Regions from separate parts of the Homo sapiens genome. Here region 2 is linked to region 1. Evidence: fine-mapped expression QTL. A gene starts in region 1. The other region holds a variant in brackets. All regions are shown on one strand. Distances are between the middles of the regions. Region 1 holds the start of NONO (non-POU domain containing octamer binding). Region 2 overlaps TAF1 (TATA-box binding protein associated factor 1).

Region 1 (5,379 bases):
ACATCCCACCAAAACTGAAAACATTAATGCAATTACCAAATTCTGTATCCAAAAGTTTAGTAAGAAAAAAAGTAACAAGAGCTATCAAGATGTTAATTCATAGTCTTTAATTTGGAAATTCTACTCCTGGAAATTTATCCTAATAATTTTAAAATTAAAAACTACACCCGTGAAAGTGTTCATTGTAATGGCCTTTATGGTAAGAAAACAATAAAAATGACTTAAATTTCCAAAATTAGGGGAATGGTTTTCATGAAAGTACGGTACATCTATACAACAGAATGTTCACAGCCTTAAAAATTATGAAGACCACATAAACACGAGTATGTCTGATATTCTAACGGGGAAAGGTTTTTTCTAATTTTAAAGATGTGAATATAGACAAGGGAACAGAAGGTAGGCAAAAATGAAAACAACTGCATTGCTTTTAGGTTACTGATAATTTTTCAATTCACGATTTCATTCAAAAAATATTCAGTGAATGCCTACCATTTGCTAGGCACTATTCTAGATGGTTACAGTGGATTAGTGAACAAAGCAGATTCTTGCCTACAGAACTTGCTTCTAGTGAGAGACAATATATATAAGTAAATTATATAGTACTTAAGAGGTAAGTGCTATGGGAAAATAAATAAAAATGGGGGAGGAAGGCAAAGTGGATAGGGAGAAGGAGGCAGATGGTAAACCTCACAACATCTGACATTTCAGCCAAGATTTAAATTTTCACATTTATATCATTTAATCAATTTTGTTTCTCATTAATGTTATAAGGTATCAGAAATTACAACTTAAAATTTTATTTAAAAATTTTTAAACAGAAATTACAATCAGATACTTATTACAAAATGTATTATAGAAAATTTAGAAAAACCAAAATAAATAAAAATACAAATATAAAAATCCATAGACCTGCCACTAAAAATAGTCACTGTTAACATGTTGGTATATCCTTCTAGTCATTAATTTATGTATTTGAAATGAGATATGATAAATACTATTTTGTAACCTGTTTTTTCCACTTTATGATGTATCATAAACAGCTTTCATGTCATTAAATCTTTTACGTTAACGGACACAGCATTCAGTTGTCAACCAAGTCCCTATTGTGTTGGACACCTGGGTCGTTTCTAATTTTTCACCATTATAATCAATGCTCATAGCTAAATCTTTGGACATATCCATGATTAAATATTCCTCCCACAATTTTCCATTCTTGCTTATTTAGACATACATTATCATTTCAGTAACTGATAATGCACCCTTGTATATTCAGAGTTTCCTCATTTCTGCTAATGTCAACATAATTGTAATTTTTAATGACTATATAAAGTTCACCAGGATGTACTACTTTACTAAACTACTCCCTACTATAAGACATTTAGGTGGTTGTTTTTGGCTTTTCCTATTATAACGCTGCAGTAAATGTCTTCTGGCTTTCAGCTTTATTTCCATTTAATTATTTCCATAGGATAAATTCTTAAAAATAGAATCTATCCTGTGACTCTTGCCACATAGTGCAACGTCGTTTTCTCAAAAAGTTGTAAGGATTTTAAACGCCATGAGCAGGTGTAGCAGTTTCATGGCAAATGAGATACCTTTAAAAAAAAACAACAAAAAAAGAAAATAGTGTTTTAAAAAATAAGATATAAAAGCAGGAAGTTAAAACATACAAAATCTAAAGTCCACCCTGGAAATAGTTGGGGATGGGGCAAGGTGGGCATCAGAATCAAATCTTTTCCTACTTGGGTTCCAGGTGTTAAACATCTCTCTTCCCCTGGCCCCGGAGAGGCCCAGGATGGAATGCACTAGTGAAGACTATCATAATAAAGCACCTATAACAGTGCCCACCAAGTAGCAAGTACCTTGAGAAGTATTTCTTCCTATCACCTACTTCTGATGACCACCAATATAATTTGGAAATATGTGCAGAACCCTCTTCAGAGTAATAAATTCACTGTCGCCTAAATACTGGGCCTCTGAAAAGAGAACACAGCACGAAGATCAGCAGCAAAGATTACTGTCTACTTGTGTCCCTGAGACTAATAATCCTGATGAAGAATTTTGAGAGAAAACACGTATTGCTGGTTGAGAAAGACTCTAACCACTGGGCATGCTACAGTTAAACAAATGTTTAGGTAGAGGACCAAACACTACATCACACATATCTGAAATCTAAATCTGGTATAAATTTACAAGACTGAGATGGCTGCCTGGATGGCCAGCCTGAAAGCTGTAAAATGAACTAAGGTCCTTCTCTAAGAGTTTCTTAGGACTTTTCATTTAATAACAAGGAAGGTGGACAAGGACACAGTATAAATATAACCAGGGCCCCCCCACTAGAGTTGCCAGATTTAGCAAATAAAATACACAACCCACAATTAAATTTGAAATTTAATTGAAAACTATGCAACATATACTTAAAAATAATTGGTTGTGTAGGTGAAATTCTAATTCAACTGGGTGCCCGGTGTTTTGTCTGGCAACCCTATCCCTTCCTTACACCTACCTCAACTTCGATTGCAGACAGCAAAGTGCCTCCCAGTTCCCTCTAACCTCGACTTCTCTGTTAAAAACACAAAGAAACGTGTCAGGTTATGGTAAGAGTTTCTCAAACTGGAAAATAAAATACTCGATGCGAAATCCATAAATTTAAGTTTCATTTTAAAAAGTGATGCTATATAAATGCGTCAAGGAGCTAGGCGGTTAGGACTTTAGAAAAAGGGCATACAGAAATCTGACTACGAAAGCGGCGGGCTCTGGATATGCAGAGGAACTTTCCAGCTAAGAGTTTTGACAAAGAAATATCGCTTGAGGGGCCCCACTTGCCCATTCTGAATTAATGGCCTCGCGGGGCCGAGAGGAGGAGCGCCCGACAAAGCGCCTCCTCCTCTAACCAACCACGACTTCAGCGATCTCTCATAATAGACCCCACACCGTCGGGCCCAGGGCGGCTCAGAGGCCGGCAACTTACTGACACGGGTAAGATTCGGAGATGAGTTGCACAAAGAAACAGGGCAGGAACGAAAATGGGGAAAGCCCGAAGCGAAGCGAGTTGAGAAAGGTGGCCCCCCGCGGGTGGGCTGAGAAGGCAGTGTGGCGGCAGAGACAAGGCCTCAAGGGGCCTCGGAAGCGCCATCCACCCTCCAAACCTAGCTTCGCCCTAGCCTCTTCCTTCGCTGATTGTTCCAAGAAATCCCACTACCCTCCCAAACAAGAACCAAGACGTCCCAAAACTCACCCTCTACCGACTGGTATCTCCTCGGAGTAACGGCGACGCTACACGGCCTCTCCCGTCCCGAGAAAAGAGCGCGCGACCGCCGGAAACGAGACGACGGAGCTCGGTGCCTGCCAAGGGGTACAAAATGGCGTTCTCGATTGGTTAGCTAAACTGCCAATCAAGGTTTAGCTCCCGAGGCGGAATCATTTTTCCGCCATTTCTTAGATTCTATTGGCTGCCGAATGCCAAAGGCTTGAGTTCGTGTGAACGACAGATGGGGACAAAGAGCGAGGCTTTGTACCTAATGCGCATGTGCAAGCGGCCTGGCGCGTGAGACGGGAAAGGAAAGGGGGAGGGGGAAAAGGAAAGGGAGAGGAGCTGGGGGTGGGGGTCGGAAGGAGAGACCTAAACGAACTGACTGAAAGACTGAAAGACCAAGTGGTGGGAGGGGGAAAGGAGAGGAGAAAAAGGGAGAGGAAAGTGGAAAGAGGGAGAGGAAGGGGAGAAAATGCGCGCGTAGGCGTGCTCGGAGCAGTCCTGCACTGCGCCTGTGCAAGAAGCAAGAGTAACAATGTCATTGTATTCAATGGAATAGATTTGGCCTTTTCCTACTGAAAAAAATGCCCCGCCATGTTTCTTTTTTCACACTTCCTTGTTAGGGCTTGCATCCTGACACCCCATACTTAATCATATTTCTAGATGCTTCTCCTGTTGCTGGGGCTACTCGGGAAACGCAACTGAAATAGTCAACTCTTTGGTCATGGTTACAGACGGGGTGGGGGAGGAGGGGGTGCATCATACCTTAGGCTCTGCGTGATTACACAGAATTGTAACCAGCACCCTCATTTCCATGGTAACCAGAAAACCTAGCAGTCCAAACATCACTATTGTTCCTATGATTTACTGAGAGATTCAACAGGTGTCATCATTGCCATGGATATATTGTAGGCCTCTAGATCAGACTGTATATTCCATAGGAGGCCTATCAGTAACTAACCTTCATTGTTTCAGTAATGCCTAACTCGCCCCGCCCCCGTGGTTAACCAAGGACTACAAGGATCAATTGATAAGTATGTGTTGTTAATTCCCATTAATTAATTCACACTCAGGGTTGCAGGGTATCCCAATGGGCACCACCTTATGTGGGGACACAATGATCTAGACTTGGGCTGTTCAATAGAACTGTGTGCAATGATGGAAAGGTCCTATGTCTGCTGTGTTCAATATGGCAGCTACTAACTATAAGTGGCCATTGAAATATGACTAATGCAACTGAGAACCTGAATTTTTAATTCCGGCTAGGTGCAGTGCTCATGCCTATAATCCCAGTACTTTGAGAGGCCGAGACGGGAGGATCGCTTAAGCCTAGGAGTTCGAGACCAGCCTGGGTAACATGGCGAAACTCCATCTCCGAAAAAAAGCAAAAATTAGCCTGTCGTGGTGGAGTGTCCCTGTAGTCCCACCTACTCAGGAGGTTAAGGTTAAGGTGGGAGGATAGCTTGAGCTCGGGAAGCAGAGGCTGCAATGAGTGGAGATCGCGCCACTGCACTCCAGCCTGCGTGACAGAGTGAGACCCCGTCTCAATTAAAAAGAAGAAGAAGAAAACTAATACTTACTCATAGAAAAAAAAAGAAAAATCAAACAATACCCAACAGTATAAAGAGAAAAGTCTTGGCCGGGTGTGGTGGCTCACGCCTGTAATCCTAGCACTTTGGGAGGCCGAGGCGGGAGGATCACGAGGTTAGGAGATCGAGACCATCCTAGCTAACATGGTGAAACCCCGTCTCTACTAAAAATACAAAAAAAAAATTAGCCGGCGTGGTGGCGGGTGCCTGTAGTCCCAGCTACTCGGGAGGCTGAGGCAGGAGAACGGTGTGAACCCAGGAGGCGGAGCTAGCAGTGAGCCAAGATTGCGCCACTGCACTCCAGCCTGGGCAATGAGTGAGACTCCGTCTCAAAAAAAAAGTCTCCCCCCCATTCATTCTCTAGAGATAGCAATTATGACCACTTTCTTGCGTTTCTATTTTCTATGTATGTACTGTTTATATTTATTTACTTAGAGACAGTCTTGCTCTGTCACCCAGGCTGGAGTGCAGTGGCACAAACACAGCTCACTGCAACCTCTGCCTTTCAGGTTCTAGCGATTCTCCCACCTCAGCTTC
Region 2 (5,379 bases), 130 kb before region 1:
ACTCTAGCCTGGAAAACACAGTGAGACCCTGTCTCAAAAAAAAAAAAAAAAAAAACCAGGAATGAAGTACTGATACATGTTACAATATGGATGACATGTTAAAACTGACCACTTTAGCCAGCCGGGCGTGGTGGCTCATGCCTGATTTAATCCCAGCACTTTGGGAGGCCGAGGCGGGCAGATCACCTGAGGTTGGGAGTTCAAGACCAGCCCAACAACATGGAGAAACCCCGTCTCTACTAAAAATACAAAATTAGCCGGGAGTGGTGGCGCATGCCTATAATCCCAGGTACTTGGGAGGGTGAGGCAGGAGAATCGCTTGAACCCAGGAGGTGGAGGTTGCGGTGAGCTGAGATCACGCTATCGCATTCCAGCCTGGGCAACAAAAGCGAAACACCATCTCAAACAAACAAACAAACAAAAAACCTGACCACTTTAAATGGTTAAACTGCATGGTACGTGAATTATATTTCAATAAAGGTGTTTAAATAAAAGGTTACTTCTGAAAGGTGGCCAGTGGATCCAGCAATTAGGATGTAGCTGGTACTTCAGCAGAAGACAAGTGCAGGGTTGTGAGGCATAAACAGTAAGTGAAAAAGTGGAGAACAGTATATGGAGCATGGTGGTTAAGAGTACAGGCTCTGACGTTAGATATAACTGGATTAACATCTCTACTTTATCTTTTTTTTTCTTTTTTTTGAGACAGAGTCTCGCTCTCTCGCACAGGCTGGAGTGCCATGGTGCGATCTTGGTTCACTTCAACCTCCACCTCCCAGATTCAAGTGATTCTCATGCCTAAGCCTAGTGGTGGCTCATGCCTGTAATCCCGCCACTTTGAAAAGCCAAGGTCAGTGAATCGCTTGAGGCCAGGAGTTCAAGACCAGCCTGGCCAACATGGTGAAACCCTGTCTCTACTAAAAATACAAAAATTAGCCAGGCGTGGTGGGGCGCAGCTGTAGTTCCAGCTACTTAGGAGGCTGAGGCAGGAGAATCGCTTGAATCCCAGAAAAGGAGGAAGTTGCAGTGAGCCAAGATTGTACCACCACACTCCTCCAGCCTGGGTGACAGAGTGAGACTGCTTCAAAAGAGAAAATCAGCCGGGTGTAGTGGCTCACGCCTGTAATCCCAGCACTTTGGGAGGCTGAGGAGGGCAGATCACCTGAAGTCAGGAGTCCGAGACCAGCCTGGCCAACATGGCAAAACCTCATCTCTACTAAAAATAAAAAAATTAGCCCGGTGTGGTGGTGCATGCCTATAATCCCAGTTACTCAGGAGGGTGAGGCAGGAGAATCGCTTGAACACAGGAGACAGAGATTGCAGTGAACCAAGATCGCAGCACTGCATTCCAGCCTGGGCGACACAGCAAGACTCCATCTCCAAAAAAAGAAAATCACAAATGTAGATTAGAAATGCCCCTAAAAGGCCGGGTGCAGTGTCTCATGCCTGTAATCCCAGCACTTTGGGAGGCCGAGGCGAGTGGATCACGAGGTCAGGAGATCTAGACCATCCTGGCTAACACGGTGAAACCCTGTCTCTACTAAAAATACAAAAAATTAGCCAGGCGTGGTGGCTGGCGCCTGTAGTCCCAGCTACTCGGGAGGCTGAAGCAGCAGAATAGCATGAACCTGAGAGGCGGAGCTTGCAGTGAGCCAAGACAGCGCCACTGCACTCCAGCCTGGGTCAAAGAGCAAGACTCCGTCTCAAAAAAAAAAAAAAAAAAAAAGAAAAAAGAAATGCCCCTAAAGGTAAAGTCATCTTCCTCTTTTATTTTTTTTTTTAGTACATGTGCAGGATGTGCAGATTTGTTACATAGGTAAACGTGTGCCATGGTGGTTTGCTGCACACATCAACCCATCACCTCATCATAAAAAAAATAAATTTTTTTAAGCTATTTAAACACTACGGGCCTGTATGTTCATCTGGAAAATGAGGGTTATAACAGTATCCATTTTAAAGATTTCTTATGGTGAAATAAAGAAAAGAATGCGGCCGGGCGCGGTGGTTCATGCCTGTAATCCTAGCATTTTGGGAGGCCAAGGTGGGTGGATCACAAGGTCAGGAGTTCAAGACCAGCCTGGCCAACATGGAGAAATCCCGTCTCTACTGAAAATACAAAAATTAGCCAGGTGTGGTGGTGGGCGCCTGTGATCCCAGCTACTCGGGAGGCTGAGGCAGGAAAATCACTGGAACCTGGGAGGAGGAGGTTGCAGTGAGACAAGATGGCGCCACTGCACTCCAGCCTGGGCGACAGAGCAAGATTCCATCTCAAAAAAAAAAATAAAAAGAGGTAATATGAGTTGGTCTGGAAATATAGGGAAGAAAGGCATCCCAGAAAGAGAGCAAAGACTGAGAGAGCAAAGACTGCAAAGTCATGAAGAAATGATAAGGGATATTTTGTGAAATATAATGCTGAGTGTGGCAGGGGTCGATAGTGGGTATGGGAGCCAGTTATTGGAGATGGAAAGTAGATAAATGGGTTGGGCCTGCTTGTGAAAGGTTTTAAAATTCACGTAGTACTACTATCCCATGTTTACAGATGAGAAAACTGAGGAGGGTATGAGAAGTTAAATAACTTGTCTATGGTAACTCAATTAGTAAGTGCCAGAGCCATGATTTACACTCTATCTGTACTCCGAATCCCTACATTTATATCTGTGAATCTGTGCTCAAGGATGCAAATGGAAACCAGAAAACCTTATCCTTTA[C/T]ATGCAGAAGCTATACTGTTTCCTCTTTTTAAGACACAGCAACAGGCCAGGCGCAATGGCTCATGCCTGTAATCCTAGCACTTTGGGAGGCCGAGGTGGGCAAGATCGGTTGAGCTCAAGAGTTTGAGACCAGCCTGGGCAACATGGCAAAACCCCATCTCTACCAAAAAAGTACAAAAATTAACAGGGTGTGATGGAAAGCACCTGTAGTCCCAGCTACTCAGGAGGCTACTGGGCAACAGGAATGAAATCCTGTCTCACAAGGGAAAAAAAAAAAAGACAAACAGATTTCTTCCTCTTTGTCTTCTCAGCTTTTGAGCAAAGTGAACATGTAACAGCACCTCTAACAAATTTGTAGACCAAATCGAAGATTCAGACACAGCAAATATGGTCACAAGCGCATACTCTACACAGGTTCCATCCACACTGAACGTCTCTCTCTCTTTTTTTTTTTTTTTTGAGACGGAGTCTTGCTGTGTTGCCCAGACTGGAGTGCAGTGGCACGATCTCGGCTCACTACAAGCTCCGCCTCCTGGGTTCACGCCATTCTCCTGCCTCAGCCTCCCGAGTGGCTGGGACTACAGGCGCCCGCCACTACGCCCAGATAACTTTTTGTATTTTTAGTAGAGATGGGGGTTTCACCATGGTCTCAATCTCCTGACTTTGTGATCCGCCTGCCTTGGCCTCCCAAAGTGCTGGGATTACAGGCGTGAGCCACCGCGCCCAGCCGAATGTCTCTCTTTTGTACTAACCTAGGACCACGTCTTCCACTACTTTCCATGGAACTGTTTCATTGCAACGAATAGACTCCAAATTCTCCAAAGGATATAAGAATTAAACAGTGGGAATAAAAAGAAGTGACATTAGGCCGGGCGCAGTGGCTCACACCTGTAATCCTGGGAGGCTGAGGCGGGTGGATGACGAAGTCAGGAGTTAGAGACAAGCCTGACCAACATGGTGAAACCCAGTCTCTACTAAAAATACAAAAATTAGCCAGGCATGGTGGCGCATGCCTGTAATCCCAGCTACTCGGGAGGCTGAGGCAGGAGAATCGCTTGAACCGAGAGGCGGAGGTTGCAGTGAGCCAAGATTGCGCCACTGCACTCCAGCCTGGATGACAGAGACTCCAACCCCCTCCTTAAAAAAAAAGAAGTGATATTTATTAAATGACTGAAAATGTACATTACCTGATTTTCATACCCACAAATGAATGCACAAATACACTGTAGTCCTCTCAGTCCAATCTAGTCTGAATTTAGGGCCAGTAAGGAATAAGGATCTGAACAGTGACCTTTGCAATCACGGAACATTTGATTCTTACCATTGTAGGTTGCACTATTTTTCACAATTAGCTCCAGATGCTCTCTGAACTCTTCCCGAGATGGGTAGAGGCGTTTACGCACGTTTTCGCGGAGTGTTTGTAGGTCCATTGGCCGAGTGATGATTTTGTAGTAGTCCTTTACAACCTTTGCATTGACTGGAGTGTGGAAAGGGTATGTCTGCAAACAAGGGCCAGAACCATACATCAGCAAATAACAGTTGCCAGAGCCAATTCCTGAAGACTTTCACATCTTACCTATCTACCTGGCTATCAACACTGAAAGGAATCTTTCTAGATGGAGCACGTCTGTTTCCTCTACTAAACTGCTTAAAAAAACAAACAAACAAAAAAAACTAACTCCCTAAAAATTAGGCATTCCAGTTACCTAAATCTACAGATTACTGCCCTCTATTGGAAATCACAGACAGAACAAAAGGCCTTGACATCCCTACTATAGATATCCAATGCAATGAACTCACATTTGGAAGATCTCTCATGTCATTGATGATAGACTCCAAGATGGACGACAGCGTCACCATAGGGTCTGTGCGGCGCCGGTGGATGGACTTATGAGGTCTCTAAGGAGAAATGTGAAATCAGAATGCTTCCTCAGACCAAAAAAAATCCACATTCTGTCCAGGCACAGTAGCTCACACCTGTAATCCCAGCACTTTGGGAGGCTGAGGTGGGTGGACCACTTGAGGCCAAGAGTTCAACACCAGCCTGGGCAACATGGTGAAGCCCCGTCTCTACTAAAAATACAAAAATTAGCTGGGTGTGGTGGCATGTGCCTGTAATCTGAACTACTCAGGAGGCTGAGGTAGGAGGATCACTTGAACCTGGGAGGCAAAGGGTGCAGTGAGCCAAGATCACACCATTGCACTCCAGCCTGGGTAACAGAGCGAGACTCTGTCTCAAAAAAAAAAAAAAAAAAAAATCTGCCGAGCACGGTGGCTCACTGTAATCCCAGCACTTTGGGAGGCCAAAGCGAGTGGATTACCTGAGGTCAGGAGTTCAAGACCAGCCTGGTCAATAAGGCAAAACCCCATCTCTACTAAAAATACAAAAATTAGCTGGGTGTGGTGGTGTGCACCTGTAATCCCAGCTACTTGGGAGGCTGGGGCAGGAGAATTGCTTGAACCTGGGAGGTGGAGGTTGCAGTGAGCCGAGACTGTGCCACTGCACTTCAGCCTGGGCGACAGAGTGAGATTCCGTCTCAAAAAAAAAAAAAAAAATCCACTTTCTCTAACTAGACAAACATATTTTAGAAATCTTATAATGAACAGTACAAATAATTCTCAGGGCAAGGCAACTGGAGAATCTAAGGCTGTCAGAGCTGTGGCATACAGGGCT

What was found. PIP is the estimated chance that this variant, and not a neighbour inherited with it, causes the effect.
Region 2: its variant is fine-mapped to the expression of NONO in whole blood (TOPMed, PIP above 0.99). The same link has a PIP of 0.9 or more in blood mononuclear cells.

What each region holds. Positions count from the first base shown.
Region 1 is chrX:71,281,581-71,286,959 of GRCh38, reverse strand. It overlaps NONO (non-POU domain containing octamer binding), which reads right to left and starts at 3,325. Exons shown (of 12, transcript NM_007363.5): 1 at 3,239-3,325; 2 at 2,507-2,563.
Region 2 is chrX:71,406,799-71,412,177 of GRCh38, reverse strand. TAF1 (TATA-box binding protein associated factor 1) reads right to left here. Exons shown (of 38, transcript NM_004606.5): 27 at 4,506-4,604; 28 at 4,027-4,204. Among named protein-coding and RNA genes, the nearest start is that of TAF1, 43 kb to the right of the region's middle. The variant C/T (reference allele first, on the strand shown) is at 2,706.